Linked DNA regions of Homo sapiens. The protein of the gene in region 1 purifies or fractionates together with the protein of each later gene. This does not show direct contact. Each region holds a gene or a part of one and is shown in the gene's direction. Other genes may lie near its edges.

Region 1 (5,440 bases):
GGCAGGGTGGGCCACTGTTGACGGGGATTGAGGAAGTGATGGGCCATGCATGGAATAAGACAGGGCTGAGTGATGGGATGGCCTCCCTGTCCCCCTTGCACAGATTTCCCCGGAGGCTCCAGGCAGCTGGGCTGCTCTCATTCCCTATACCTGCGCTAGGCAGGATAGGGCAGGGTTGCCACTGGCCTCGCCTGTGCCCACAACAGACAGCACGGCATACACAGCCTGTCAACCCCAGCTCACCCCTAGACAGGGTGCCCAACCCAGGGCTAGCCTGGGGCTTTAGGCAGCCAGGACCATACAGCCCTGGAATGACGCCCACCTGTAGCTTGGGGTCCTCCCAAGCCCTGTGTGGGTCTCCAGGGTGAGGTGGGGGTTGTTTCCTGGGAGGCTGTGGGTCCCGAGCAGTCCCAACTGATGCCTTGCCCATCCCTTCTTGTCCTGCCAGGCACCGGCAGTGGCTCTGTGTCCCACGCCATCATCCGCACCATTGCACCCACGGGTCACCTGCACACGGTGGAGTTCCACCAGCAGCGGGCAGAGAAGGCCCGGGAGGAGTTCCAGGAGCACCGTGTGGGCCGCTGGGTGACTGTGCGCACCCAGGACGTGTGCCGCAGTGGCTTTGGCGTGAGCCACGTGGCCGACGCCGTCTTCCTGGACATCCCATCACCCTGGGAGGCCGTGGGCCACGCCTGGGACGCCCTCAAGGTCGAAGGTGCATCCGGGGTTCCGGGAGAGGTACAGCCTGGGTGGGGGTGGGGCAAGGGTGCAGGACTGAGCTCCTGGGATCTCAGAGGGGTCCAGAGACCAAGCCACACCATGGCAGTGGCCAGGCCAGGGCCCCACTTTGGCCTGAGGTGAGGAGTGGGTCAGGCTGGCCAGGGGAGGCAGAGCTGGGGAGGATGGTCCCTGGCTGGGCCCTGCTCCTGGTCTCTGGCCTCTCCCAACCCCCTGATGGAGGAAGGTGGCAGCGCCACCCAAGTGCAGGGCAGGCCCGGCCGGAGGAGTCTGGAGTCCCCTCCCTGCTGTTTCCCAAAACCTCTCCTCCCCCAGGCTCTGGAGCCCAGGGAGCTGGCCCCTTTTAGGGAAGATGCTGGGTGCGGAGGCGGGGCAGCCCTGGGGAAGGTCGGGCCTCAAGCCAGGGAGGTGGCTGGGAGGCCCAGGGTTTTTCCCTTTTCTGGAGAAGGAGCAGCTCAGGCAGCAGGGGCCCCTTCCTTCTTCCCAGCTGAGAGTTGTATTCTGAGAGGGTTGAAGGGTGGAGGTGCTGGGCGCCCCACCCCACCTCAAAGATGAGCCGAGGCCTGGTGCGAACAGCAAGGCTGTGGCCGGGGGTCCCCTGCTGGCTCCAGCCCAGCCCTGACTCCTGGGTCCTGGTCTCTGCTGAGGTGGGTAGCTGTGGGGATCTCCACACCCTGCCTCCTAGGCTTCCTGCTCTGGGGACACTTCTGGGCCTGGACCATAGTCCCAGGGAGGCTGAACCCGGCAGAGCCTCCCCTGGGGCCCCCCTGCTGCCTTTGTGACTCCTTCCTCCAGCGTGGCTCGGGGAACCCGCGCCTGCCTCTGGGACCTGTCCCTTTCCCTGCGAGCTCCCCCTTCTGGGTCCAAAGGCTCCTGGCTCATTCATGGGCCCGGCATCTCCTGCCGGCCACGGGAGCCCGCTGGGGAGGATGCGGCATGCTCAGCCTCTGTGCCCTGTCTAGGCTGTTGTCACACAGCAGGTGCCTCCTCTAACCCCGAACCTCCTGGCGGCCCCGTGTTAGGGTACAGCTGAGGAGACCAAACCTCAGGGACGTTTGAGGACACTTGCCTGGGCCACATACCTCTACCCGGCCCTGGCTTCCCCAGGTCCTCCCTGCCAGGACAGGGACCCGGGCTGGGTTCTCATTCACTGCAGGCCAGGCCAAGTGAAGCCCGTGGCTGCCCTGGTGGGAGGCGGCAGGGAGGGGCTGTCATGCTCGGGCTCTGCTTCGAGTAGGCGCCTCCTGTTCCCGGGAGCAGCGACAGCCTCTAATTTCCTGTGACAGCAGCGGCCCCCGCACCGCCCCACGCTGCCGTGCTGTCAGAGCTGCTCCGGGCCCAGAGCTCCAGCAGCCCTGTGGAAGGCAGGAGAGCAGTGCCCGCTGTGGGCCAAGTGAGACAATGGCAGCGCGGGCTTGACCCGGTGCCTGGCACATGGGAGGGCCTGGCATGGCTAAGCTGGGTGACATGAACAGCGGCGCCAGGCCCCATGGGGGGCTGTCAGTTGAGGGCCAGGCCCCTCTGCCCTGCAGTCCCAGCTCTTGGAGAGCTTGCAGTCTGTGTTGGGGCTGTCTTAGGCTGGCCTCAGACCCTAGGGTGGGAGTCCAGGGATGCTAGGGCCAGACGGGCCAGGCTCTGCCACCCCTGCCCTCTGACCCTCGGGTCCTGTTTCCCACAGGCGGGCGCTTCTGCTCCTTCTCACCGTGCATCGAGCAGGTGCAACGCACATGCCAGGCGCTGGCAGCGCGCGGCTTCTCAGAGCTGAGCACCCTGGAGGTGCTGCCACAGGTCTACAACGTGCGCACTGTCAGCCTGCCACCGCCCGACCTGGGCACAGGCACAGATGGCCCTGCCGGCTCCGACACCAGCCCCTTCCGCAGCGGCACGCCCATGAAGGAGGCCGTGGGCCACACCGGCTACCTGACCTTCGCCACCAAGACCCCAGGCTAGGGGGCCGCCTCCCAGGGCACCAGGGAGCTGGGAGCACTGAAGGGCTGGGCAGGGAGGCCAGAGGCACCTTATATGGTCAGCGATGCCTGCCAGACACAGACGGTGGGGTGGGGCTTGGGGGCCTCCTGGGTGGCCAGAGTGGGACAGCAGGAAGGGCGGCTGTGATGGAGGAGCAGTGCTGGGGCTGGGCCTCAGCCATTCCTGTCCAGCCCTGTGGCCCATCCCAGCTGCTGTTTGTTGCCAATATGAAGTATCCACTGCCACAGGCTCCCCTGGGTGTTGAAGCCAAAGGGTGCAGGTGGGGGAGTCTGACCCCCTCCCAGGTGGGCCTAAGCAGGAAGGGGGTGGAGGAGGGAGGGGGGCATTGACCCTGAGACCACGCTGCGTCTGACCCCTGGGCCCCCACGGCCCTGGCTGCCCCACGGGGCCTGAGACCATCTCGTGCTTCTCCAGTCCCCGGGCCGAGGCTCCAGCCTTGGCCAGAAGCTGGGGTGAGCTGACCCAGAATCCCTGCCCTGCTCTCCCCAGCGCTAGGAGACCAGGCCAGCCCAGGAACCAGGGAGGTGACCCTGCTCTCTGGCCTCCTGGCTGATGTCACAGCACTGAGCTCAGCCCAGGCCTTCGTCCACTCATGTCCAAGAGGCGGGGCATCCCCCACCCAGCCAGAGCCCCTGACATGGGCTGCACTCGCTGAGGCCAGGCAGCGCTGCGGAGAGGAGCGGCAGAGTGGGTTGTCTGCCGCAGGCAACCAGGCAAGTGTGTCGGGGCTGGGGTGTGAATGCCAGCCTGTGAGTCCCGGAACTATGTGGGTACCCCTACCCCTCACAGAAGCCAAGGGCATGGAGGAGGTCCCTCCACAGTGACAACGGTGTGGGGTAGGGGAGGTGCATTCAGGACACCACCCAGGGACAGTGCCTATGTGATCACCTCTTAAAGGCTAAGCTTAGGGGCATTTCCCAAAGTGGGGACAGAGGGCAGGACGCCCAGGCTGGGGGCTCTCCTCGCCCGCCCTGGTGTCTGACAGCCTCAAGGAAGGAGCAGTGCCTGTGTCAGCCATGGGGCCCTTGGAGCTGCCGCTGGTGCCTAGGGGGCCTGGGTTTCTGCCCAGGCAGCCAGTGGCTGTTGGGAGCCTCTGTTTCCCCTGTGCTGGGGGCCTTGAGTGCTATGCTAGCAGGGGCCTGGCCCCAAGTGTGAGTGATGAGCAATAAACGTACCGTCCCCCTCTGTTCTGAGTGATCCCTAGCAGCCAAGGCCACCCCCAGCTGCTGTCTAGGCCAGCCCTACCTGCGCTCTGCCCCTGGTCCCTGCTCCTCCCTGTCCTGGTTTGGCATGATAGGCGCTCCAGTCTCCAGGACAAAGGGGCAAATGTGTGGCCACCCCCATCTGGCTGCAGAAAAGGCCACTCCTTCCTGGGGTTGGGGTGGTCCAGGAGTGCTGGGCCTTCTTCCACAGTCCTGGGCTGGAATTCAGTGTGGCTGCCTGGGTTACTTGTATGCGCCCCTGAAGGAAGGGTCCACTCCAGGCCGCCTGGTCCCTGCGAAGTGTCACACTGTGGGTCACCGGGGGCTGTGGCTAATGTGGTCCGGGAGGCCTGTGTCCCTGAGAGTTGCTCAGCCCTGCTCCGAGGGCTTGTCCTCTCCTTCCAGGACCCAGCTTCCCTTCTAACCTTGTTACTCACCTGGGGCACAGAGGAGGGGCCCCCAGTCAGGTTCAACATGGAAGTGGGTGACCCTAATGCCAGGAGCTTTGGGGTCAGGCTGTCCCTGGGGTGTCATGAACTGGGTGACGCACACCCCTGAGATCTCAGTTCCCCCAAGCCTGCCCTGCCCCTCCTGGCCACAGCAAAGGCCTGCATGGTGTCTGATGGGTGGACACCGGGAGGTGTTTCTTTGAGGCGCAGCTCCATGGTTTATAGGACACATAGGCCTCAGGCACCGTAGGGTCCAGGTTGTGCCCATTTTCCAGCCGGGGCTGGTTGCCCTGGTGGCAGCCCTGGGTGAGTCACCAGGGTCCGCACATGGAGAGCGGGAGGTCCCAGCCCACCCTTAGTTGTCACATGGGACAGAGTTGCTGTGTCAATCCCCTCGGCCCTGCTGCTCTGCCCTGCACACAGGCCCCCATGATGACCTTGAGCCTCCAGGCATCCACCCCCACCGTATGGCCCTCTAGACCCAGCTGGGCCTCACCCCACTCCCTCAGCTTGGATCCTCACGTGGCCTGGAGCCAGCATTAAACTCCTGTATGTCCTTCAAGACCCCTTCAAATGTCCTTTTCTCAGCATGCTTCCCCAGACATCTAATGCCCAGGCGGGAGAGTCCTGCACACCATGTCCCGAAGGAGTCCCCATAGCAGAGGAGCAGAAGGCAAGCAGCGCCCCAGTTCTGTGATGGGGAGCCTGACTTTCAGAGGTAGAGCTGGGCCCATGGCCGTGAGTGACCGATGAGCAGGCCCGGATGGTCAGCGCGAGTCAGCAGCACGGGCTCATCATGGGGCACGGATTCACCAGAAACTCCCTGCCTGGCCCAGTGTGTACTCGCCTGTGGCCCTCAGATTTTCCCTGGCAATTCCTCCCCGCTCACCCTGCTGTCCTGCACTGAGACAGTGGCACATGACTCCCAGCTGCCCAAGCCCTGGAAGGTCCCAGACCCTGGCTCTGACTCAGCTGCTTGGAGGGTCCTAGTCCTGGGAACTGCCCTAGAGCCGAGATTAGAGTACCCCTCCCTCAGGAAGCCCCGGGGTGTCAGCTGCTCCT
Region 2 (7,000 bases), on another chromosome or scaffold:
CAAGGTCACACAGTTGAGTGGTAGAGCTAGAATTGGAGCCCATAGGGTTTTACCCAAGGGCCAGGGTCTTAAAACACTATGAACCTTCGTGAGGTTACAAATAACTTATCTATAACTTAAGGAAACAGACATCATTTTTGGAAAATTGAGGTTATGTTGCCTAATTAACACTGGAGTTACCATTTCAGGAGACCTGTGGTTACTAGCTTATTGGCTGGAGACTTTTTGAACAGGCCTGAAACTTTATAGTCCCATTATCACTGACACTGTGAGTCCCAAGACACTGTGAGTCCCAACCCCTCTCCCTCCTTTTAAAAAAAAAATTGCTGTATTAATAAGACTCTAAGCTCCCACAATTCTGATGGAGTTCTTCCCTTGGTCCTCCTGGGTTCAAGTTACATGGCTACTTCTATCCTTTCAGTCTTTCAACCGATTTGGCAGATGGAATTCTGTAATCTCCTTCACTCCTTGCTTGAATTCAAACAATTTGTTTTACTGCCTAATTGAATTTGGCATTCCTTCCGCATATTTTGTGTGGTTATGGGCCACAATCTTAAAATCATTCTAATGACATGACTGACTTTTCACTACCAAACTGCTGCTTGCTTGCTTGCTTGCTTGCCATAATTTCTTTGGGTCAGGCACTCTGCCAGTGTGCATACTCAGGAAGGACTTGAAATTGGTTTACACATTCCTTTTGCCTTTTTATTATTACAGTAGGAAGTTTTGAGTTAAAAAATACACTATATAGGCTGGGTATGGTGGCTCACGCCTGTAATCCCAGCGTTTTGGGAGGCCGAGGCAGGTGGATCACGTGAGGTCAGGAGTTTGAGACCAACCTGGCCAACATAGGGAAACTCTGTCTCTGCTAAAACTATAAAAATTAGCTGGGCGTGGTGGCACATGCCTGTAATCTCAGTCACTTGGGAGGCTGAGGCACAAGAATTGCTTGAACCTGGTGGGGCAGAGGTTGCAGTGAGCCGAGATCGTGCCACTGCACTCCAGCCTGGGTGACAGAACGAGACTCCGTCTCAAAACAAACAAACAAACAAACAAAACCGCTACATAGTCATAAATGTACATTTTATTTGGCTTCCTATTTTACTACCTTTCTTAAAAAAAAAAAAAGTCTTGTCAACGATTCTCATTTGCAAGTTGAATCCTGTAAATAAGGCTTGGTGAGACTGGCTCACCACTGCTCCAGTGATCCCTACAGAATTGTTTCCAGACCTATCTGTGTGGAATTGTTTCCATAGAGATGGTTAAAACCAAGGACTGCCAGCTGCTTTTGGGACTTTTTTTTCTCTTTGTCTTCCTTTTCATCATTCCAGTGCTTTCCTATTAGCATAGAGATCAGAGGGACCCTGGAGAGGATCTTGTTAGAGACCATAATGAGAGAAAAGATGAAAAAGGAGAAGGAAATAGAAGTACCCATGTGACCCAGAGGAAAACAAGACAACAAACACGTGATCATGTATTACACCATCAGGATGAAGAGGAGAGGAAAATTCCGTGCAGAGCCTGAGAGAAAAAAAGAAATTGAAAGAGATTACACTCTTCGGGGGGAGGGAAGGCACATTAACGAAAAATTGGTTAAGATATTTGTTCACATATCCCCAGTGGCATTGTGAAGTACCATAAAAACTGGATTATCATAATCTTTTGCCTATGTAAAAAGCAAATAATCTAAAAAATGTAACAAAATCCACTAAATTTCATCTAATTAAGGTAGTTAATGCCTTTTAAACACTAAATTTGTGTAAGACTGTGAAATGCTTATTCTTTGGTTTATATCCTATGTATCTTGTCTTTAGAAAGCACTAATCTCCTTTATTATGGTTCAACATTGTTTCTCAAGACAAGACTGAATTACACAGTTTATATTCTTGATACTTTTTTGTTTCTCTAAGTCACCTAAGTGTTCTTTGTGAATCTGGCAACCAAAAGGCCTGTTCAATCTTAATAATTATACTAAGTAAACAAATGAAAACTCAAAAGGAAGAAAGCACCTAAACATATTCTTTCTCTAATTTTTGAAAATAATTAAAATAATTGAACATTCTTTTTGTTCCAGTGAATTGCTGTGAAGGCTAGGGAAAGCAGCTTAAAAAGATAGCTACTTAAATAATTTAAATGAAATTATTGTACTGCTTTTAGTGTGTCATAAGCACATTAATAACTTTGAAAATACAGCATTGATAATACAGTAATAGACCATTTCCCCCAACGTGATTTTTTTTTTTTTTTTTTTTTTTGAGGTGGAGTCTTGCTTTGTCGCCCAGGCTGGAGTGCAGTGGCATGATCTCTGTTCCCTGCAACCTCTGGCTCCTGGGTTCAAGCGATTCTCCTGCCTCAGCCTCCTGAGTGGGATTACAGGCATGCATGACCACGCCCAGCTAATTTTTGTATTTTTAGTAGAGACGGGGTTTCACCATGTTGATCAGGCTGGTCTTGAACTCCTGACCTCATGATCCACCTGCCTCAGCCTTCCAAAATGCTGGGATTACAGGCGTGAGCCACAGCGCCCAGCCCCACCCAGATTTTAAGCTTCTTGGTGGTAGATAAAAATATAGATCTCATTATTCATATACCTATGTTTTTAAGTCTGCAAAAAATAACGATGGTCACACTGGGGGCAGGGACACTTTAAGTCATTCATTTTCACTGCAGTCTTGCAAAGTTACTGTTTCATGGACCAAGAAATGAAAAAGCCAGTAGATAAAGTAGTGTTTCAAAGTTTACCAAAAAAGTAAATGGCAAAACTTAGACTTGACTTCATAATCAGGGAGTCCCAGTTCTGACACCAGCTACCAGTGAATTGATTCTGAACCAGTTAACTTTTCTGAACCCCAGTTTTTTTTTTATTGTTGTTGTTGTTGTTTTGTAGTGGAGTCTCGCTCTGTCGCCAGACTGGAGTGCAGTGGCGCGATCTCAGCTCACTGCAACCCTTGACTCCCTGGTTCAAGCAATTCTCTTGCCTCAGCCTCCCGAGTAGCTGGAATTACAGGCATGTGCCACCACACCCAGCTAATTTTTGTGTTTTTGGTAGAGATGGGGTTTCACCATGTTGGCCAGGATGGTCTCAATCTCCTGGTCTCATGATCCACTGGCCTCGGCCTCCCAAAGTGCTGAGATTACAGGCGTGAGCCACTGTGCATGGCCACCTCAGTTTCTTAATCTCTAAAATGGTTTGTTAGGTTATTATATAGGGGGTGGAGATTAGTAATTGAAATAATGTTAATTCTAGTTCCATGCTGTTTTATTTATTTGTGTTTGTCCTAGCATTGTTAATGAATCTGGTTCATTCCTGCTAAACTCATTTAATAGCAGTGAATTTAATAGAATTTTTAAAGTAAGTACAGTATCCTAAGAGCTACATTGGGAGCCAGGACATTATTCCAGTGAAATCTGTAACTCATATGAACTATTCTGTGGGCAGAATAAATAATATTTCCGATGTAATGTGCTGCTGATTTTCCAATATAGGCAGATGCAGCTGTTATTAATAAATGGAAATTGATTTGAGAGCATTACTGAATTCCTAGTAGGTCAGTATATGTTTCCATCCATCCATAAAAAATACAAGTACAGCTTGGCACAGTGGCTCATGCCTGTAATCCCAGCACTCTAGTAGGCCGAAGCTGGCGGATCACTTGAGATCAGGAGTTCAAGATCAGCCTGGGCAACATGGTGAGACCACGTCTCTACTAAAAATACAAAAATAATTAACCGGGCATGATACTGCATGCCTGTAATCCCAGCTACTCAGGAGGCGGAGGTTGCAATGAGCCGAAATTGCGCCACTGTGCTCCAACCTCGGCAACAGAGTAAGACTCCATCTCAAAAAACAAAAACAAAACAAAACAGAAAAATCAAGTACATTCTATAATGTTGGATGAGCTAAAAAAAAAATGCACGTACATAAAGTGAACCTGTCCCTGACTTTCAAGAGCATACAGATACATTCCATTACATAGATAAATTACATTAAACTGTAGCAAGTGACAAAATAGGGTAAGCACAGAGTGTTTGGGGAGCACAGAATCTGGCCATTCACACAGTCTAGGGCTTCAGAGAAAGCTTTCTGAAGGAGACAACTCATGAGTTAAGTGTTGGAGGATAAGTAAAATTTAGTGGGGCAATGAAAAATAGGAAAAGCATTTACAGTTGAGGACGCAGTAAGATCCAAGGCATGGATGTACAAAATAACGGCAGAAGTGGAAACTCTAAGCAGGTGAAACATTGTAAAATAAGGAAGTAGGTAGGAACCAGATCTTGGAGAAGTTTGTGTGCTACCCTATGGAGCTTGGCTTTTAAGATTGATGATCAATGTAGTGCTTTTTGGGTTTTTTTGTATTGTTTTTGAGATGCAGTCTCACTGTGTTTCCCAGGCTTGAGGGCAGTGGCGTGATCTCAGCTCATTGCAATCTTTGCCTCCCAGGTTCAGGTGATTCTCCTGCCTTAGCCTCCTGAGTAGCTGGGACTACAGGCATACACCACCACGCCTGGCTAATTTTTGTATTTTTAGGTAGACACGGGGTTTCACCATGTTGGCCAGGCTGGTCTCAAACTCCTCACCTCAAGTGATCCACCTCTCTTGGCCACACAAAGTGCTGGGATTACAGGCATGAGCCGCCATTCCCGGCCAATGTAGTGGGTTTTTGTTTTGTTTTGTTGTTTTCCCTGAGACGGAGTCTTGTTTTGTCACCCAGTCTGGAGTGCAGTGGCACAGTCTCAGCTCACTGCAACTTCCGCCTCCCGGGTTCAAGCAATTCTCCTGCCTCAGCCTCCCGAGTCGCTGGGATTACAGGTGCCTGCCACCGCACCTGGCTACTTTTTGTATTTTCAGTAGAAACAGGGTTTCACCATGTTGGCCAGGCTGGTCTTGAACTCCTGACCTCGTGATCTGCCTGTCTCGGCCTCCCAAAGTTCTGGGATTACAGGTGTGAGCAACTGCACCTAGCCCAGATGTAGTGTTTTAATTAGATAGTTCTGATTAAAGTGTGGAGAGTTGGCTGGGCATGATGGCTCACGCCTGTAATCCCAGCACTTTGGGAGGCCAAGGCATGTGGATCATTTGAGGTCAGGAGTTCAAGACCAGCCTGGCCAACATGGTGAGACCCTGTCTGTACTAAAAATACAAAAATTAGCCGGGCAATAGTGGCACATGCCTGTAATCTCAGCTACTTGGGAGGCTGAGGCAGGAGAATCGTTTGAGCCTGTGAGGCAGAGGTTGTGGTGAGCTGAGATTGTGCCACTGCACTCCAGTCTGGGCGAGTGACACCCTGTCTCTAAATAAATAAATAAATAAATAAATAAATAAAGTGTGGAGGGTAGATATTGGGAGGGTAAGAAGAGAGAAGACTAGGAGAAGGACCAGTAGAGATGATGAATACTTAAACTAGAGCAATGGTATTAGGGATAGATACAGGAGGCTCTCTTTAAGAAATATTTGGCTGGGCACAGTGGCTCACACCTGTAATCTCAGCACTTTGGGAGGCCAAGGTGGGCAGATCATGAGGTCAAGAGATCGAGACCATCCTGGCCAACATGGTGAAACCTCATCTCTACAAAAAATACAAAAATTAGCTGGGCATGGTGGCGCGCACCTGTAGTCCCAGCTACTTGAGAGGCTGAGGCAGGAGAATCGCTTGAACCCAGGAGGCAGAGGTTGCAGTGAGCCCAGATCGTGCCACTGCACTCCAGCCTGGCAACAGAGCGAGGCATGGTGGCGCACACCTGTGGTCCCAGCTCTATCTCAAAAAAAAAAAAGAAAATTAGGAGCTATTTATCAGCAGGGTTTAGTGCTTGAGTAGAAAGGCTGTGCATGGGTGAGTGAAAAGAAGTCAAGGATGAATTATTTTTGGCTTAGGGTTGGATGCTGAGAATTTTAACTGACATAGGAAATACAGGAATATCGGGTGTGTTGATTTTGAGATGCCATGTACTGTCCGAGTGAATGTGTCTAGTAGGAAATTAATCTGGATAGGAATGTAGATTTGGCATTCATTGACATATATTTTGCTTTTATACTTCAAAATAAGTTTTTTGGGATGGCCTCAGGCTAAGTAAATTTGCTGTGGAATCTGTTGTAAAAACTAGAATGAGAATTTATTATTTACAGTGAAGAATATAACTATCAAACAAATGGAATGCAAATTATCCCAGTGTTTTTGTGGGGGATACTTCTGAATATTCTACATAAAAGGAAGTATACTCTATTAGTTATTATTGCTGTGTAACAAATTGCTCCAAAACTTAACAGCTTAAAACAACAAACTTTTATTATTTCATAATTTCTGTGGATCAGAAATCTTGGGGCAGCTTAGCTGGATGCTTCTAGCCCAGGATCTCTTTTTCTTCTTTTTTGAGATGGAATCTCACTCTGTCCCTCAGGCTGGAGTGCAGTGGTGTGCTCAGCTCACTGCAACCTCTGCCTCATGGGTTCAAGCTGTTCTCCAGCCTCAGCCTCCTGAGTAGCTGGGATTACAGGTATGCTCCACGAAGCCTGGCTAATTTTTGTATTTTTAGTAGAGACGGGTTTTCCCAATGTTGGCCCACCTGGTCTTGAACCCCTGACTTCATGTGATCCACCCACTTTGGCCTCCCAAAGTGCTGGGATTACAGGCGTGAGCCACCATGCCCAGCCTAGGGTCTCTTATAAGGGTATAATTAAAATGTCAGCTGGAGCTTCAGTTATCTCAAGGGTCAACTAGGGTAGGATCTGCTTAAAAGCTCACTCCCATGGCTATTGGCAGGCCTCAGATCATTAAAAAAAATAAAATTTTAGATTTTTGAATAGTTGTAGATTTATAGAAAAGTTGCAAAGATATTACATAGAATTCCTATATATGGCTCACTCAGTTTCCTCTGTTAACATCTTATATTTGGCTGGCACAGTGGCTCACACCTGTAATCCCAGCACTTTGGGAGGCCAAAGAAGGAGGATTGCTTGAGACCAGGAGTTTGAGACCAGACTGAGCAACATAGTGAGATCTCA
Region 3 (7,000 bases), on another chromosome or scaffold:
GGAGGAGGCGGTGAGCCTTCCTGGGTTGATGTGAGACACTCCTGGGGGTTTGGATATCCTCATAGATAAAAATCTCAGGATTTGCCCAGCACATTACAGTTTCCTAAGTGCTTTCGTAGAACATATCTCATTTGAATCTCACAGTGGTTCTGTGTGAGGTAGACAGAAGCATCAGAGGTTATTATTCATGTTTCACAGAAGGGGAAACTGAGGCTCAGAGAGGCTACCTGGCTTGCCCAGTGCCATCTTGCCTGGCTAGTGGCAGAATCTGGACTCAAAGACTCAAACACAGGTCTTCTGAGTCTGAATCTGTAGCTCTTTCATTGCCCCATCATGTCTAACTAGGCTTCTGTACTGGTCCTGTAGAATGTGTGGGGCACCGTTTTCTCCTTTCTCTTTGGTAGTAGGGTAAAGTGCCCGTCAGCAGTCAAGGTCTTCCCTTCTACTTTTCTGTCTTGGGGCTCCTACCTTGGGGGTTCAGTCTTGGGGCTCATACCTGTAAGTCCTATAGTTAAAGCACTATTTTCTCTTGTAAGATAGTGCAGCTTTGCAGGGTAAGGGTATTCCTCACCTCCACCCTGCCTGATTCTCTTCCCCATTAAGAGTGGTAGGACTCAGATCCCCTTCAGACATCCCCAGCTAGCTGCACTGAATCTTACTCCCTTAACTGTAGGCTTATTCAATTGTAACTTTGGGCAACATCAGCCTCAAGACTCTATGGATTTTAAATAATTTACAGATTTAAATCACACTGAAAGGAATAATACGCTGCGGATTATGGAGTCTAGTATTCTTTCAGTTTATCAGTTTGCTGTGTAGAGAGCCTAGTGTAAGGTGCTATAGGAGAGTTTTAGAAAATTAAGGTGTACAGTACTTGCTCACAGAGAGAGCATGCAACTGGGGGACTGGGAAACACGTAAGACTCTTGAAGACCACATAAAGCAACACCAGACTGTAAGCCCCTCACAAGCAGGGACAGTTTGGTTTGCCTGTATGAAATCCTGTGTGCCTAGCTTAGTGTCTTGCATGAGGTGAGTACTCAAGAAATGTTTGACAAATGAATGTTAGAGTGAATGAACAGATCAGCAAGTACAAATTATTTCATTGCGGGTTGTTTCAACATTCACGTGTTAATTTCAAATGTAGTCAAATAAGGTCAATTAGAGAAGGTTTCCTAGGTAATGTGTATTTTCTAGAAAATAAATGACATAATAAAGGACTATGTATTTGGAAAGAGATTGTAGCTGAGAGTAAGAAAATTTTGGAATATTTACTTGGCAGTCTTTCATCTCCTGTAGCACCCTGTTCAAGAGTGACTCCTGGGTCCATAGAAAGCATAAAGTATTTGCAACTATTCTTTATCTTTCAGTGTTAATCAGTTGTTACTGAAAGATGGGCTAAAGTGTAGCTGTTCATGTCCCTTTCAGTTTTTGTCCATGGGCAACTTACTGCCCATTAATATATATTCCTTTCAAGAGTTTCTAAAAATGTGTTTGCTATTGCAAACAGAGATAATGATACTAAATTATTTTTACAGGAGTGGTCATGAGTTTTGCTAAGCCATCTATATCTGTTAGCCTGGTTCCCCCATGGCAAATGTTTTTGAGATGGACAGGAGGGTTAGGGGTTTGCATCCATGAAACATCTTTCCTCTGCCCAAAGTTAGTTCATGTGAGGATCAAACCAAAGTACTTTAAGCCAAGAGTTTGTGGTTTGAGTCCTGGCTTTCCCCTTAACTATGTGACCTTGGGGAAGTCACATGCCTCCTCTGGCTTCCTCATGTAAAGCAGTAGTAGTTCATTTCTATAAAGTACAATCCAGTTCTCAAACATTTTTATATGGTGTGTCATTTGAGGATTATAATGTTTGTTTCATCTCTCTCACAAGCCTATTGAAAGGAGCAAATCAAACGAGATAATGTATTTCAAATTGTTTTCTAAACTGTAAACTCTATATAAATTATAGATGGTAAATTCACAGATTTGATTTAGCTTCGTGCACAACTTTCTGAGCTAAGTATCCCAAAACAAAACAAGGTGACTGAAATCTTTATATCATTTTGAAGAATTTAAGCAGAGTGAACTGGCTTTATTGTTGTAGAAGTGCATGGGGTCAGGAGGAAGGAGTATTTTTCCAATAGATAGGGTACTAGAAGAATGTGAGAAGAGAAGGGTTACTGAATCTCCTTCCCAGGAACTCTGATGAATGAGAGAGACTTCATCTACCTTGGCTCACCTTAAATGTCTGTTAGTGATGGGGATAGAAAGGATTTGTTCTGTGATCTCCAGCCATTCCTTGTCTTAAAAGCGTATGACTTTCCTAATTCAAAATAAATCTAGACCCAGCAACTGTTCTCTGTCAGGGGTCTCTTCGCACCTTGGCTTCTGGTCTTTATTGACTCCTGGGACCAAGAAGTCCCCAGACATTTAGCTGAGTTTCTACCTAGATTAGAAGGTTGGCCTCCCAGAATGGAGACAGGGATCCAGAGCTACGTATGATAAGTCCCGGAAATGCTGAGTCTTTTCCAAAATGTACCCTTGTTCCCATCTAGGGGTGTGAGATGAGAGACACAATGGATTTGCAGCTGAAACATTTGGCAATTAATCACCATTATGAGAAGGAGCAGACTAAGCTTAACTTCAGATACTCAAAAACATTTCTGAAAGAGTGCCCTTTTATTAATGTATTTGTTTAGCTTTTTTAATAGACAAGAAATAAGAAAAATTAAATGACAATACGAGTTCATCAAAAATAAAAAGATTTTGTGAACAGCACATAGCTAATCTCCTAGTTAGTATAAAGGTAAAGGAGTTCTGGAAGCTCACAGCCTCTGTGGAATGGAGTTTAGAAACTCTAGTTTGTATAGTGTTTCTTGCTGCTTTAATGTTCTGATAATCTGATGTTTGTGAAAAGGCTTTGTTAACTGTTGAGTTCTATAAACGTAAGAGGAGTTATTTTAATCTATATTGACTGAATCTGTTTCACCTCTTCATAGTAGCATTGCCTTTAAAAATTCATTTTTATTGGTTTATTATTTTTTAAGCTTAACTCAAAGATATATCACGTGGCTTGGAAACTCTTTTTGCTGTGGATTGTGGTGTTCCTTCTTTTGTCAATCACTATATTGATAAAAGACCCAAGCATACACCTGCTAGTGGCATGCAAGATCACTCCTTTGCCCCATGGGGTAAACCGTACTGAAGAAGTTGCTGATCCTGGTCTCAAAAAGAAAAAAGTATAACTTCATAAAAAGTCATGTTAGATCTTTTGTGAAAGGAGGTTTGGAGTTCTGAGGAAAGAACACAACATCTGAGTTAGTAGACGTGGATGATGGAGCCAGCTTTGTTAGCAGCTGGGTGAATGACCTTGCAAAGGTGCTTACCTGCCCTCGACCTCAGTTTGCTTATTTGGAAAAATGAGGGAATTAGGCTAGCCAGCCTCTAAGATTTGATTCCTTTTAGCTATTACGTTCTTTCAGCCTCTGAAACCAGAATGCTTTGTGTCCTTTCAGTGGGCCAAATGGTTTTTCAGAAATCATTGTCTGGCTTTCCTGAAAATCAGTGAAAATGAAAGCTTGAAAAGAACAGAGAACAAAGCTGCCTGATCAAATGGGAGAGAAGATGGAAGTACAGGGACATGGAAACATGGGGAGGAACTGAGAAATCCATGGCCCCTAATAGAATTGGAATAGGATTTGGAAGGTGGTTTTGTTTTTTGTTTTTTGGGACAGGGTCTCACTCTGTCGCCCAGGCTGGAGTGCAGTGGCATGATCATGGCTCACTGCAGCCTTGACCTCCCCAGGCTCAGGTGGTCCTCCCACTTCAGCCTCCTGAGTAGCTGGCATTACAGGCATGTGCCACCACACCTGGCTAATTTTTGTAGATATGAGGTTCACCATGTTGCCCAGAGTGGTCTCAAACTCCTGAACTCAAGCAATCTGCCCACCTCGGCCTCCCAAAGTCCCAGGATTATGGGTGCAAGCCACCACGCCAGGCCTGGAAGGTGTTCTTAAGGTCTGGAAGAATACCCCAATTTATTGTACTAAAACAATTGGACAGATTTCAGGAAAAAATCACAAAAATCTGGCAGGACTTCAAGGGATCCTCTTGCCCTTTACTCTGGACTCCAAATAGGGTGTCTCTTAACCTAGTAAAGACAGGTTGAAGGCCTCTCCCATTTTCAGTGATCTCTGGAGGATGGTTCCATTAGTTCAACAATTAGAAATCCCTTTGGATACGAAACTTCCTCTGCCACAATTTAAAACCATTTTATTGTCTTTCTATTGTGATTTCAGCGTAGGCCTTAAAGTCACTAGTATCCCTCTATTACCATTGTTGACTTCCTTAAGATTTTCCTCCTCATTTTAAAGAATAGCAAACTAAGACATGAATATGTGAGAAAGGGGCTTTGAAAAGTTAGAGTGAAGTAATTTCAGAGTCTTGCTTTCCAGACCCTGCTCCTTTCCAGTATTTGGGAGCAGCCACTACAAAGTGGTGTGATGGGATCTGTAGTCATCAGTCACAGCCTGGCCTCAAATCATGTAGGGAACCAATCTAGCAGCCCTCCTGGTGATGACCTGTGATCTGTGGCGCTTGACGGTTGGTTGGACTTGAAATATTTATCAGATGGCTCAGTGCAGTTCTCAGTGTTCTGAGAGATAGTACAGGAGAACATAGAGCTTACATTCTTTTTTTTTTTTTTTTTTTTTTTTTTGAGACAGTCTTGCTCTGTCACCCAGGCTGGAGTGCAGTGGCGTGATCTCGGCTCACTGCAACCTCCACCTCCTGGGTTCAAGCGATTCTCTGCCTCAGCCTCCCAAGTAGTTGGGATTACAGACACCTGCCACCACACCCGGTATACTTTTTGTATTTTTAGTAGAGACGGGGGTTTCACCATGTTGGCCAGACTGGTCTCGAACTCCTGACCTCAAGTAAACCGCCCACTTCAGCCTCCCAAAGTGCTGGGATTACAGGCATGAGCCACCGTGCATGGCCTCAAGCCTAAATGCTTGTTGGGAAATGTTATTAACAAAGCAACACAAAATAAAAAGATGGTACATAATTGCTGAATCGTTATGTACACCAAAAGGTACATTTAGAGAAGAGTGCAAGGTTGGTGCTAATAAGAATAGTCAAAGGCAGAGTAGTTAGGAATTATTCAGGTCGAAGAAAGAGAAGAGGCCATTTCAGACTAGAGGAGCAACACGAGCAAGGTTCTGTCTGGGGTGGCACCAACATGGTGTGGTCTCCAAGTGTTAAGATTATTGTAGAGCAGAGAGAAATTAGATTGATAAGATGGGTAGGGTAGGGAGAATGAAGGGATTCAGACTTTATGTGGTAGTAGAAAGGGAGCCGGGGAAGGTTTATGTATTATATGGTGATAAACATAGTGTTTAAAGAGAGAATTCTGATATTAATATATAGAGCAGAAGAGAGCTTGGGGTTAGGAAGCCTAGGAGTTTTTGTAGCAATCTTAGGAAAAGATAACGAGCTTCTGAATCAGAACGGTTATGGTGGGGACAAAGAGGAGTGGCAGGATTCCCAAGACGTTTTGGTAGCAGAATTAACCAGTATTTTAAGACTGAATCAAATTTATTTATTTATTTATTTATTTTGAGACAGAGTTTTGCTCTTGTTACGCAGGCTACAGTGCCATGGCACGATCTTGGCTCACTGCAACCCCTGCCTCCCAGGTTCAAGCAATTCTCATGCCTCAGCCTCCTGAGTAGCTGGGATTACAGGTGCCTGATCCCATGCCTGGCTAAGTTTTTATATTTTTTAGTAGAGACGGGGTTTCACCATGTTGGCCTGGCTAGTCTCAAACTCCTGATCTCAGGTGATCCGCCCGCCTCCACCTCCCACAGTGCTGGGATTACAGGTGTAAGCCACCGTGCACTGCCCTGAATCAAATTTTATTCCCAAATTTATGAGACTGGTGGACTAGGAGAAGGGTAGTGCTATTGATAGACTAGGATCTTCAGTAGAAGTCATTTTGTCTGCCATTGATACCTAGCAATTTACTGAATACAGTGGATACTTAACCTTCCTTAGACCCTTAGGTTAGGCCATTTCTACCAAATAGTTTTAGAGCTCTTCAATACAGCTTTTTAAGAGAAGCAGGAGGCTGGGCGTGGTGGCTCACGCCTGTAATCCCAGCACTTTGGGAGGCCGAGGTGGGTGGATTACCTGAGGTGAGGCGTTTGAGACCAGCCTGGCCAACATGGTGAAACCCCGTCTCTACTAAAGATACAAAAATTAGCCTGATGTGTTGGTGCACGCCTGTAGTCCCAGCTACTTGGGAGGCTGAAGCAGGAGAATCACTTGAACCCGGGAGACAGAGGTTGCAGGGAGCTGAGATCGCACCCCTGCACTCCAGCCTGGGTGACAGAGCAAGACTCTGCCTCAAAAAAACAAACAAAAAACAAACAAAAAAAAGTGAGTAGTCAGTTCTGGGAGATCCCTTAGGAAGTTGGGTCATGGTTTGAGGAGATTAGCATGTATTTGATGGATCCTGATTAATCAGCCATATATATATATGTATATATATTCATATATGTATTCATATATGTATTCATATATATATTCATATATGTATTCATATATTCATATATATATTTTCATATATATATTCATATATATTCATATATGTATTTTCATATATATATTCATATAGATTCATATATATATTCCTATATAGATTCATATATATATTCCTATATATAGATTCATATATATATTCCTATATATAGATTCATATATATATATTCCTATATATAGATTCATATATATATATTCCTATATATAGATTCATATATATATATTCCTATATATAGATTCATATATATATATTCCTATATATATTCCTATATATATTCCTATATATATTCCTAAATATATACATATATATATTCCATATATATATTCCTATATATATATTCCTGTATATATATTCCTATATATATATATTCCTGTATATATATATATTCCCACATAGCCACCCA
Region 4 (7,062 bases), on another chromosome or scaffold:
TGCTTCTTTAGGGAAAATTGAGGGGGGTGGGGCAATAGGACAAGGTTAGAGGGAGACTTTTTATTTTTTGCCTTATATAGCCATCTGAATTTTGTACTGTGTGCATGATTTACATATTCAGAAAATAAATATAAGCTAATAAGAGACCAATGACTTTGAAAAGAAGATTGAGAAAGAAAAGCCAAAGAGGCAGGAGGAAAACTAGGAGAGTATATTATCACCAAAGCCACGGGAAGAGAGTGAGTTTTCAGTCCTGTCTAGCATTGCAAAGAGCTCAGTAAAATGGAGATTTTTTTTTTTTGAGATGGAGTCTTGCTGTGTCGCCCAGGCTGGAGTGCAGTGGCGTGATCTCGGCTCACTGCAAGCTCCGCCTCCCAGGTTTGCACCATTCCCCTGCCTCAGCCTCCCAAGTAGCTGGGACCACAGGCGCCCGCCACCATGCCCGGCTAATTTTTTTTTATTTTTAGTAGAGACGGGGTTTCACTGTGTTAGCCAGGATGGTCTTGATCTCCTAACCTCGTGATCCACCTGCCTCAGCCTCCCAAAGTGCTGAGATTACAGGTGTGAGCCACCACGCCTGGCCAAAATGGAGATTTTAAATGCCAAGTTTGATTCAGAAATAGAGAGGTCATTAATGACCAAAGCACTAACCTTGGTTCCACCCTGCCTAATTTTCAGCGCCTAGAAGATTATCAGCGTCGCCTTGATACCTCCAGCCTGAAGTTGTCAGAGTACCCAAATGTTGAAGAGCTCAGGGTGAGAGATGGTCTAATCATAATTTAAAAAATAAAATAAAATTTGCTAAAGACCTGGCAGGTAATTAACATCTCAGTGGGAATATACGTCACCTGAAGGAGTTCTTGTATCGTAGATTATCTGTATTTATGATTTTTTTTGCTGCCTTTTAAATGCTTGATCTGTATGAAATTAGTTTTTCATTAGAGGAATATCTTGCATAAAACTGTAATATTACATGACAGCAATTGGCAGGAGACTAAGGGACACTAATTATTATAAAATTTAATTTTATTGTGTTCTGTAGTTTGTTTCAGACAGGGTCTTGCTCTGTTGCCCAGGCTGGAATGCAGTGGTGCAGTCTTGGCTCACTGAAGCCTTGGCCTCCTGGACTCAGGCAGTCCACCCACCTCAGCCTCCCTAGCAGCTAGGACTATAGGTATATGCCACCATACCCAGCTAATTCTGTGTTTTGTAAAGACAAGGTCTCGCTGTGTTGTCAGGTTGGTCCAGATTTCCTGGGCTCAAGTGCTCCTTTCTCAGCCTCCCACAGTGCAGGGATTACAGGCATGAGCCACTATGCCCAGCCTGTGTTCTGTAGTTTAAATAAGGGTAGGACTGTTTGGTAACTTTCCAGATCATTTAATAACACAAGATAGCATACTATTTTCTCATGAGGCTCTTCAGAAGCATAAAAGTTGGAACCATTACAGGAACGATAGTAAAATGTTTACTAATTGCCACTTCTAGTATGTGGGCTTATGTGTTAACTTTTTCGGATTTTAAGTGTTTTTGTACCATTTCACTAGGTGGTGGTTTTGGCAGATTTATTTGGTGGCTGTTAAAATAGACTTTTATGTCATATATTAATACTTCGTCAACAAGCACGTAAATGTGCTTATTCCCCTTAGCTTCCAAAGAATGAGAGTTTTCTAGAGCTGCTAATACTAAAAGATGATTCTCTTACTAATAAGTTGTTAATATTTAGACCAAGTCTGAGTAGTACCTGGACTTTTCATGAGTACTATTTCTTAGAACTTTCTTTGAAATTAGAGCCTTGGAACTCAGAAGCCACTTTCTTATAGACAAGCATATGTACCATGCTCATCCAGTTATTCATAGGAAAATTAAAGGATACGTTGAGAATCTAGTGACTGAATGTTTGTAACTTGATCTTCATAATCTGTTATCATCTGTTTAGAGTGAGGTTTGAAGATAGTACTCCTGAATGTTCTTCTGCAAGATACCTTTTCCTTTTTAGAAAATTGTATGCAGATTACTTTAATATGGCTTTTGTGCCATTTTCAAGAACTGACAAATAGCAATAATGATAGTTGAATGTAAATGGTGTATTTTATATTAAGAATTTCTTTAAAAGAGACTGTATTATATAGATAATCATGTTACTGAGTGCTTGGAAATTATTTGTGCATGATTTTCTTTATTTTGCCAGAATTTGGATTTAACAAAAAGGAAGATGATTCATGAAGGGCCATTGGTTTGGAAGGTGAATAGAGATAAAACTATTGGTAGGTCTGATATTGTCTTTTAGTTTTGGGGAGAGTGGCAAAAGGGAAGGAATAGGAAAGTTTCCTATGACAAAGGGAAGAGGAGAGAACCATTCTCTCAGCAGTTTGCAGTGCTACCTCGTGTTATTTGTACATTTGTAGATCTGCTTGTGTTATTTCATTATATGTAAGATGTGTTAAATATTCATTTAGGAATGTAGTGGAGAACTGATTTAGTCCTATTTCCATCATTCTTATAGTCTAGTGAGTCTTTGTATGCTTTGTAAGCTTTCTTTAGACCAGTACATCTTAAACTGTCTGTGATGAGGAACCGTTTTTGTTTTTTCAGAAACAAGGTCTTTCTATGTTGCCCAGGCTGGAGCACAGTGGCTAGTCACAGATGCAGTCATGGTGCACTGCTGCCTCGAACTCCTGGGCTTAAGGGATCCTCCTGCCTTAGCCTCCCTAGTAGCCGGGACTATAGGCGCACAGCACCACACCCAGCTTGTTGTTTTTTATTTCCTATTGGTCACAGACTGACACTTCAGTGAAATAAAATAAAAATGAATTACTGAAAATGAAATTTTAAAAGATAATATACAAGTCAATTTTTAAAATTTTGTAGCTTTAACAGAAATAGAATTCCTCTGTTGAATCATTATAAAGTTAATCAAACGCGTCTCCATTTCTGTACTTACCATTTTTTTCTGCACTTTTATTTCTAGATTTATACACGTTGCTGCTGGAAGACATTCTTGTATTGTTACAAAAGCAGGATGATAGACTGGTTTTAAGGTGTCATAGTAAGATTCTGGCATCTACAGCTGATAGCAAACACACGTTTAGCCCTGTCATTAAGTTGAGTACAGTGTTGGTTCGACAAGTGGCAACAGGCAAGTATGTCCACTGAAGGATACTAATTTCCAGATTCATTGTGAAGTTGCATAAGATACTCGGTGCTGTCTCAATAACACAAGTGGCATAGAGTCTTGCTATTTTTATATTCTTAAGCAAATTACATGAAATTTACTGCTTAGAAAGAGACCTAAGAGTTTATACCCCAAAGTTATTAGGGTGTCTCGATTCTGTGAACAGTTTTCTGCATTTGAAAATTTTTATGCTATTACTTTGGTTCTTTATGTTCAAATCATTGATAGATCCCAATGAAAAGCCTTTCATTTAGGGTGGTATGTTTTTTGATTTGGTGAGAAAAAAATCAAAAACCAAAGAGACGGATGTAGTGTTGATTAAAAATCAAATTTGACTGGCAAGTTATATTTTAACTCTATTAACAACGGGGTCCCTTTTAAAACTTGTTAGTTTCATGGTGGCAAAATAAATTTGTGACCTCTTTTCTCCACTACTCACTGAATATTATTAACTAACAACTTAGCAAAAGTGCAGTTCAAAATAAATGCAAAAGAGTAATAGCATTTAATCTGGTAATTTGGATTTATTTATTTTTTTTCTTTTGAGACGAGGGTCCCACCCTGTCACCCAGGCTGGAGTGCAGTGGTACAACCTTGGCACACTGCAACCTCCACATCCCAGGCTCAAGCAATTCTTCAACCTCAGCCTCCTGAGTAGCTGGGACTACAGGCATGCACCACCATGACCTGGCTAATTTTTTTGTTTTATGTAGAGGCAGGGTTTCGCCATGCTGCCCAGGCTGGTCTCGAACTCCTGAGCTCCAAGCGGTCCACCTGCCTCGGCCTCCTAAAGTACTGGGATTACAGGTGTGAGCCACCGTGCCCGGCCAGTAATTTGGATTTTTGACATGCTTTTAGCAAAGTTTCTAGTAAATTATTGTGGAATTAGTGCTAATTCGTATAATCTTTGTTTTATTGAAGTACAATAAATATAGTACAATAAATACGTTAATATGGTAAGTTGCACAAATTTTAAGTGTACATCTTGATGAATTTTAAAGTAAATATATGTAACCTTTATCTAGTTTAAGGGGCAGACTATTTCAAGACCCTAAAAACATCCCTCATGGCCTCCCCAGGTCATAGTATTAGAGTAATCTTGTATTGTTTTTTCCAGATAACAAAGCTTTATTCGTCATTTCCATGTCAGACAATGGCGCTCAGATTTATGAACTGGTGGCACAGACAGTTTCTGAAAAGACTGTGTATGTATCAGATATGGCTACCTTGCTATAGCTAATATTTTCATTATCCCAAGCGTAATATTCCATAAACTTAACTTTGTTTTTATAATGTATGGAAACCAAGCACTTCCTCTGTACTCTTTTAGAGACGTTCTACTATGAACTTGTTCTTTTTTAGGTTGATGCCTTTTATTTTGATTCTATTCTGAAAGTTTATTTCCTAAAGAAAAAATTGTGCAAAATGTCAAGTGAAGTTTTTTTAATGTGTCCATAGATTTCTCTTAAGGTATAGTTTTGGACTCTCGCCTTAATAGTGTGTTGCCAAAATAAAGATATTCTCTGGCAGAGTGGGTTTTGTTGTTGTTGTTGTTGTTGTTGTTGTTGTTGTTGTTGGTTGATTTGGTTTTTGTTTAGTTTTGCTTTCTGAGTATATTTAAAGGATATTTCTTTTTTCTTTTTTGTATTTTGGATTTCTTTCCAACTTTCTGAAGCTGGCAGGACCTAATCTGTCGGATGGCTGCATCAGTGAAGGAGCAATCCACAAAGCCAATTCCATTACCACAGTCAACACCTGGCGAGTGAGTGTTCCTTTGCATTGTAGTAGGACTTATTTTATGTTTTGGGTTGGAAAAGACTAGGATAATTATTATGTTTTGTTGCGATGATGTTTAGATACCTCAGGAAGGTAAAAGTTTTTTTTTTTTTTTTTTTCTCTACAGAGGAGATAATGATGAAGAAGATCCTTCAAAATTAAAAGAGGAGCAGCATGGCATTTCAGTCACTGGTTTGCAGAGTCCAGGTACACTCTTCTGAAGAGTTCAATGGAGAATGTGCTCTATTATCTGTTAAAATGCTGGCCGGATGTGGTGGCTCATGCCTGTAATCCCAGTGCTTTGGGAGGTCGAGATAGGCGTATCACCTGAGGCCAGGAGTTAGAGGCCAACCTGACCAACATGACAAAACCCTGTCTCTACTAAAAAATACAAAAATTAGCCGGGCATGGTGGTAGGTGCCTGTAATCCCAGCTACTTGGGAGGCTGAGGCAGGGAGAATTGCTTGAACCCAGGAGGCGGAGGTTACGGTGAGCCGAGATCGTGCCATTGCACTCCAGCCTGGGCAACAAGACCGAAACACCAAAAAAAAAAAAGAAAAAAAGAAAAAAAAGAAAATAAAATAAAATGCAAAGAAACTTTAATACTGTTTGGTTTATGCAGGTTCCAGCATCAGAGATTCAGTTTAACAAACTTTGCCTTTGAGCCTTCTGTGTGTCAGTATAACACTGTTCTAAGTGATGTGTATTTTTCTTAACAGATGATCTCTGTAGTTTATGGATTGTTTTTTTTTTTTCTGATTCTTCCCTGAATGCTTCATGTTAAAAGTTAAAAGCTTTGTTTAGATATAGTCTACCTTTTCTATTCCATTGGACAGACAGAGATTTGGGATTAGAATCTACCTTAATATCGTCAAAACCTCAGTCTCATTCACTGAGTACCTCTGGGAAATCAGAGGTACGTGATCTGTTTGTGGCTGAGAGACAGTTTGCAAAGGAACAACATACAGATGGGACACTAAAGGAAGTTGGAGAAGATTATCAAATCGCAATCCCAGATTCACACCTGCCTGTCTCAGAAGAACGGTGGGCATTGGATGCACTAAGAAATTGTAAGTTTTATTCATAACTTATTACAGATACTTACTAAGTATGACACTCATGTGCCATCCCTAAAGTATGTGGATTTATCAAACTCCACTTATTCTTCTAGTTCTATTGTGGAGATTATAGTATTCTCTACAGTGGCCCATGCCACAGGCACACACACACATGCCACTCTGTTAGCTCCCCACCCCCCTGCCTGGTTCAGAATCACTGTTAAAATGGGAGGATAGCATATCTCTCAGTTGTATTGAGGTGGGAAAAAGGCTGAGAACAATTTCTTTGGCTGGGGAGAACCACTTGAAATTTTTAAACCAGCGTATGACTAAAGGTATGAAAAAAGATTAATCTGGCTGAAAGCGGTGGAAGGATTTGAATGGAAAGAGGTATGGAATGGTGTACTTACTAAATAAGCTATTATAATAGTCTGGCCTGAGACTAAAAGAGTTTGGACTAGAATGTTATCAGAAGGAATAAGAAGAAACTGAGAAGTCATCAAATGCTTAAAATAATTGACTTCTTTGAATGTGAGGTCAAAGGAAAGGGAATATTTAGAGATAATTTCATTAATCTAGTCAGAAATAAGAGTCAGAAAAGGACTACCACTGCTTCCCCCACCTCCTTCCATTGTACTTTCTTTTTTCTTTCTTTTGATTTGGTAGAATTATAGGCTCAGTTTTAAAGCATGTCAAGATTAAGATAATGAATGACAAAACACTAAAAAGTGAGTAACTAGCAGGAAGTTAGAGTTTTAGGAGTGAAACTTTAGAGAGAGGTTAGGAAGAGATAGAGATGTGAGCATCAGAGCCATGAGACTTCCTGGCATCTCTCAGGAAGTGATTGTAGAGCAGAAGGACAGAGGATGAGAGACCTAAGTGGAACCTGTTGCCTAAAGAAACATGACAGACATTAAGCTAGTGATGAGAGCAGAGAATTGGTTATTTAAAACCTACAATATTTTTTATACCTTCTCCTGAATTAACAGTCTTAATAATTTCTGATGGTTGGAATAACATTGTCCCAATAACTCTATCATTGTCTGGGTGACCTCA

Evidence for each region.
Region 2: the proteins of TRMT61A (region 1) and PBLD purify together in Homo sapiens (affinity purification with mass spectrometry; 3 studies listed by BioGRID and IntAct, with this or other methods). This does not show direct contact.
Region 3: the proteins of TRMT61A (region 1) and ARHGEF11 purify together in Homo sapiens (affinity purification with mass spectrometry; 3 studies listed by BioGRID and IntAct, with this or other methods). This does not show direct contact.
Region 4: the proteins of TRMT61A (region 1) and ARHGEF12 purify together in Homo sapiens (affinity purification with mass spectrometry; 3 studies listed by BioGRID and IntAct, with this or other methods). This does not show direct contact.

What each region holds. Positions count from the first base shown.
Region 1 is NC_000014.9:103,532,134-103,537,573, forward strand, and holds the end of TRMT61A (tRNA (adenine(58)-N(1))-methyltransferase catalytic subunit TRMT61A), read left to right. Parts: intron 1-448; coding exon 449-715; intron 716-2,416; coding exon 2,417-2,688; 3' UTR 2,689-4,940; downstream 4,941-5,440. UniProt on the Homo sapiens protein: Catalytic subunit of tRNA (adenine-N(1)-)-methyltransferase, which catalyzes the formation of N(1)-methyladenine at position 58 (m1A58) in initiator methionyl-tRNA.
Region 2 is NC_000010.11:68,322,929-68,329,928, reverse strand, and holds part of PBLD (phenazine biosynthesis-like domain-containing protein), read left to right. Parts: intron 1-7,000.
Region 3 is NC_000001.11:157,035,743-157,042,742, reverse strand, and holds part of ARHGEF11 (rho guanine nucleotide exchange factor 11), read left to right. Parts: intron 1-7,000. UniProt on the Homo sapiens protein: May play a role in the regulation of RhoA GTPase by guanine nucleotide-binding alpha-12 (GNA12) and alpha-13 (GNA13). Acts as guanine nucleotide exchange factor (GEF) for RhoA GTPase and may act as GTPase-activating protein (GAP) for GNA12 and GNA13.
Region 4 is NC_000011.10:120,472,372-120,479,433, forward strand, and holds part of ARHGEF12 (rho guanine nucleotide exchange factor 12), read left to right. Parts: intron 1-678; coding exon 679-756; intron 757-2,188; coding exon 2,189-2,264; intron 2,265-2,968; coding exon 2,969-3,136; intron 3,137-4,289; coding exon 4,290-4,377; intron 4,378-4,847; coding exon 4,848-4,934; intron 4,935-5,075; coding exon 5,076-5,155; intron 5,156-5,784; coding exon 5,785-6,018; intron 6,019-7,062. UniProt on the Homo sapiens protein: May play a role in the regulation of RhoA GTPase by guanine nucleotide-binding alpha-12 (GNA12) and alpha-13 (GNA13). Acts as guanine nucleotide exchange factor (GEF) for RhoA GTPase and may act as GTPase-activating protein (GAP) for GNA12 and GNA13.